2 separate regions of the Homo sapiens genome follow, and region 1 is linked to region 2. Evidence: fine-mapped expression QTL. Tissue or cell type: whole blood. Region 2 holds a variant in brackets; the other region holds the start of a gene. All regions are shown on one strand. Distances are between the middles of the regions.

Region 1 (2,684 bases), 43 kb after region 2:
GAGAATGGCGTGAACCCGGGAGGCGGAGCTTGCAGTGAGCCGAGATCACGCAACTGCACTCCAGCCTGGGCCACAGAGCGAGACTCCGTCTCAAAAAAAAAATAAAAATAAAAATAAAATTATCATTTCTGGCTGGGTGAGGTGGCTCACGCCTGTAATCCTGGCACTTTTGGGAGGCCGAGGCGGGCGGATTGCCTGATCTCAGGAGTTCGAATCCAGCCTGGGCAACACGATGAAACCCCGTCTCTACTAAAAATACAACAACAAAAAATTAGCCAGGCGTGGCGGCGTGCGCCTATAGACCCAGCTACTCGGGAGACAGAGGCAGGAGAATTGCTTGAAACTGGGAGGCAGAGGTTGCAGAGAGCCAAGATCGCGCCACTGCACTCCAGCCTGGGCGAAAGAGAGATTCCGTCTCTTATTAAAAGAAAAAAAAATCATTTCTAAAATATTTTGTAGACGCAGGGTCTGGCAATGTTACCTAGGCTTGTCCTGAACTCCTGGCCTCAAGCGATCCTCCCACCTCTGCCTCTGAAAGTGCTTGGATTACAGGTGTGAGCCACTATGCCCGGCCTGTACTAAATTCTTTAAAGTTGAGAGGCTCCACATTGGCTCTTCTTCCAGCCTTGAAGACTTTGACCGTGGAATTGATCCAACGAATGCCTCTTCATCCCTCAAATTCCGCCTGAAATGTCACTTCCTCAGGTAAACCTGAGTTCATAGGGTAGGGCACAATCCCACAGGGTGGGAGAGATCCACCCACTCACCCACTGAGATGCAAACTAATCCAAAGGGGCTTCTATTCCTCTTTCAAGCATAGGGAGTGCTCAACGACTCCACCCTGCGACCCCAGGCTACGGGAAGCAGTTGACCCTGCAAAGCTCTCCACTCCCTCACCATCTGGGAGGGGACGCTGTGCTGGTGAAGCTTTTAAAACCAACTTGCAGACTTACTTGGACCCTCAAGTTTACTCATATACATAAAAAGTGATAAGAATCCGAAAAGACAGCCAGGGGAATTAAATGCCAGTTGGGGCCAACGGGGCCCTGATCACGGAAGAGGGCGCCCCCAGCTCTCAATCTTCACACAATCCCTGCACCCAGGGTCACAGAGCATGCGCAGGTCCTTCCCGCCCACTTCCGGGGCAACTGCCAACCACCGCGCAGGCTGAGCCCCAGGCAGGAAGCAGCCCACTTGGTGGGGTTGGGGTATGAGTCCTTCCTCGCGGGGGCTCGGTGGGTCCTGAGTATTCTTTGGCCGGATTTGCTGATCCGTCTGCTCCAGGTGAGCTGGGAAGGCCGCAGGAAAGGCCCAGAAGGGCCTCGCCAGGAGGCTTAACTGGACAGGGGCTTCTTGAACATTCTCTGTGCCTAAACCTCCGGGTCGCTGCCTGCCCACGACTGGATCTCCTTAGTGTCTGGCGTAGCTCTTGTGAAAAATTCAGGATTGTAGAGTTAGAATGGGGGTGTTGAGCCTGTATCAATTAAGCTTTAAATGTTATGATCTGAATTAGGGTTTATGAAGTGGCTATGTTATCTTCAAAGAGTTAATGTACGTGTTTGGGAGTGGGGGTTGGGGAGTTAAGGGAGCGAAGTGGTAGCTGCCAGTTGAGAACCCACCAGCCTACGTCGTCTGCACCCTCGACCTATGTAAGCATCCTGTAATCCTCACAAGGGTCTTACAGGTACGAATTATCATTTCAACTTTGTAGATGAGGCGCTTTAGGTGCAGGCATGTTAAGAATCAGCCAGTATGATGATGGTTGAAACTGAGAGCTTGGAATCTACCACAGGTTTTATTTATTCCTCAAACAAGCTAGAGACGTATTGCCACCAAGAAGCTTGCTGCCTGGTGAGGGGTTTTTACAGTTAGGTAAAGAATTGCAGAGTAGCTGTAAAATCACATAACTGTGATATGTGACATGATGGGAGCTAGGCAAAAAACTTGGACTAGATCTTAATGGATCTTTTTGCTTTGTTTTCCTTAAAGCATAGGTTCACAAAGTACAGTCCGCAGGCCAGCAGCATCATCTGGGAACTTAGGAAAAAACCAGCCCTACTGAGTCAGAAACTGGGGATGTGGCCCAGGCAATCTTTTACCAAGACCTCCAGGTGATTATAATGCAAGGTAAGATTTGAGAATTGCTTCCATAAAGTAATAAAGGACCAGTGGAATGTTTTCAGTTGAAATATGAAAGGATTCTGTTTGTATTTGAAAAGGTCAGTTTAGCTACAGACTTCAGAAATTGGAGGCACCATTGTGTATCTAGGAGAGAGACATAAGTGGTTTAAACTAGGGTGGTGACTGTGCCTACAGAGCTGTTCTGTTCACTTAATGTCCTGATTTTAAATAGTAGAGAAGACTGCTTTGGGTGTATGCTTGGGGAAAGGAGGGCACAATGATACCTGGAGTGAGTCCTCTTGTGTCCTTTATGAAGGGGTGGCCTGCCCCTCCACACCTGTGGGTATTTCTAGTCGGGTGGGACGAGAGACTGAGAAAAGAAATAAGACAGAGACAAAGTATAGAGAAACAACAGTGGGCCCAGGGGACCGGCGCTCAGCATACCAAGGACCTGCACCGGCACCGGCCTCTGAGTTCCCTCAGTTTTTATTGATTATTATTTTCATTATTTCAGCAAAAAGGAATGTAGTAGGAGAGCAGGGTTATAATAAGGAGAAGGTCAG
Region 2 (2,684 bases):
AGGATGTATTCAGATTCTTTTTTTTTTTTTGAGACTGAGTCTTGCTCTATCGCCCAGGCTAGAGTGCAGTGGCGCAATCAGTGAATCCTCTGTCTCCTGAGTTCTGATTCTCCTGCCTCAGCCTCCCGAGTAGCTGGGACTACAGGCATGTGCCGCCATGCCTGGCTAATTTTTTTATTTTTAGTAGAGACGGGGTTTCACCACGTTGGCCAGGCTGGTCTCGAACTATTGACCTCAGGTGATCCACCTGCCCCCATCTCTCAATCTGCTGGGATTACAGGCATGAGCCACTGTGCCTGGCTGGGGTTCTCTATTCTAATCATAGAAATGTGTTTGTTGAGACACTAAAACATTATGATATAGATGAACTTGATATAATACACAGTGTCACCATAGGATACTGTGAAAAGCAAATTGCCCTCTCATCCCACACCCAGGTTTCTCTCCAGAGTTGCCATTCATAAGTTTCTTCCATATCATTCCGGGAAAATCTTATGGATATATCAGTATACAAGCAAAGAAACCCTTTTCAGTTTGTTTTCACACCAATGGGAGCAAGTTATATTCAGCGTTCTGCATTTTATTTTACTTCCCACCTGTGCCAGAGGGAGGAATCCTGGCTTATCAGCCAGCCTGGATGTGGAGCAGAAGAAGAGAGAGGGGTGAGGATTAAAAGTTGTCAGCAAACATCAAAAATGGAGTCACACTCTTTATTAGAAGTACCCGCCAAGAATAAAGCAAGAGAATATATCATACTCTACAGTCTTTCAGGTACGATACCATTGATCTTTGACTATTTTGATTGTAAGAGATGTTGAAAAAGGTTGAAAGCAGAAATAAAGCATACATTTTTCTATCAACATGTCAGTCAGTGAAAACAAGTATGATCCATTATTCAAATTAGAAAATAAACTACAAAATGAACCCTCTACTCTCCCTCTCCCTCTCCCGCTCCCCATGGTCTCCCTCTGATGCCGAGCCGAAGCTGGACTGTACTGCTGCCATATCGGCTCACTGCAACCTCCCTGCCTGATTCTCCTGCCTCAGCCTGCCGAGTGCCTGCGACTGCAGGCGCGCGCCGCCACGCCTGACTGGTTTTCGTATTTTTTTGGTGGAGACGAGGTTTCG[C/T]TGTGTTGGCCGGGCTGGTCTCCAGCTCCTAACCGCCAGTGATCCGCCAGCCTCGGCCTCCCGAGGTGCCGGGATTGCAGACGGAGTCTCGTTCACGCAGTGCTCAATGGTGCCCAGGCTGGAGTGCAGTGGCGTGATCTCGGCTCGCTACAACCTCCACCTCCCAGCCGCCTGCCTTGGTCTCCCAAAGTGCCGAGATTGCAGCCTCTGCCCGGCCGCTACCCCGTCTGGGAAGTGAGGAGCGTCTCTGCCTGGCCGCCCATCGTCTGGGACGTGAGGAGCCCCTCTGCCTGGCTGCCCAGTCTGGAAAGTGAGTAGCGTCTCTGCCCGGCCGCCATCCCATCTAGGAAGTGAGGAGCGCCTCTTCCCGGCAGCCATCCCATCTAGGAAGTGAGGAGCGCCTCTTCCCGGCCGCCATCCCATCTAGGAAGTGAGGAGTGTCTCTGCCCGGCCGCCCATCGTCTGAGATGTGGGGAGCGCCTCTGCCCCGCCGCCCCGGCTGGGATGTGAGGAGCGCCTCTACCCGGCTGCGACCCCGTCTGGGAGGTGAGGAGCGTCTCTGCCCGGCCGCCCCGTCTGAGAAGAGAGGAGACCCTCCGCCTGGCAGCCACCCCGTCTGGGAAGTGAGGAGTGTCTCCGCCCGGCAGCCACCCCGTCCGGGAGGGAGGTGGGGGTCAGCCCCCGCCAGGCCAGCCGCCCTGTCCGGGAGGTGAGGGGCGCCTCTGCCCGGCAGCCCCTACTGGGAAGTGAGGAGCCCCTCTGCCCGGCCAGCCGCCCCGTCCGGGAGGGAGGTGGGGGTCAGCCCCCGCCAGGCCAGCCGCCCTGTCCGGGAGGTGAGGGGCGCCTCTGCCCGGCAGCCCCTACTGGGAAGTGAGGAGCCCCCCGCCCGGCCAGCCGCCCCGTCCGGGAGGGAGGTGGGGGGGTCAGCCCCCCGCCCGGCCAGCCGCCCCGCCCGGGAGGTGAGGGGCGCCTCTGCCCGGCCGCCCCTACTGGGAAGTGAGGAGCCCCTCTGCCCGGCCACCACCCCGTCTGGGAGGTGTGCCCAGCGGCTCATTGAGAACGGGCCATGATGACAATGGCGGTTTTGTGGAGTAGAAAGGGGGGAAAGGTGGGGAAAAGATTGAGAAATCGGATGGTTGCCGTGTCTGTGTAGAGAGAGGTAGACATGGGAGACTTTTCATTTTGCTCTCTACTAAGAAAAATCTTTATCCTGTTGATCTGTGACCTTACCCCCAACCCTGTGCTCTCTGAAACATGTGCTGTGTCCACTCAGGGTTAAATGGATTAAGGGCGATGCAAGATGTGCTTTGTTAAACAGATGCTTAAAGGCAGCATGCTCGTTAAGAGTCATCACCACTCCCTAATCTCAAGTACCCAGGGACACAAACACTGCGGAAGGCCGCAGGGTCCTCTGCCTAGGAAAACCAGAGACCTTTGTTCACTTGTTTATCTGCTGACCTTCCCCCCACTATTGTCCTATGACCCTGCCAAATCCCCCTCTGCGAGAAACACCCAAGAATGAACAATAAAAAAAAAAAAAAAAAAAAAAAGTTAAA

The links. PIP is the estimated chance that this variant, and not a neighbour inherited with it, causes the effect.
Region 1: TRIM61 starts here. The variant in region 2 is fine-mapped to the expression of TRIM61 in whole blood (TOPMed, PIP above 0.99).

Annotation. Positions count from the first base shown.
Region 1 is chr4:164,976,131-164,978,814 of GRCh38, reverse strand. It overlaps TRIM61 (tripartite motif containing 61), which reads left to right and starts at 1,158. Exons shown (of 3, transcript NM_001414904.1): 1 at 1,158-1,284; 2 at 1,990-2,127. RefSeq lists enhancers at 880-939, 970-1,049.
Region 2 is chr4:165,019,210-165,021,893 of GRCh38, reverse strand. No RefSeq gene overlaps it. Among named protein-coding and RNA genes, the nearest start is that of TRIM60, 11 kb to the left of the region's middle. The variant C/T (reference allele first, on the strand shown) is at 1,129.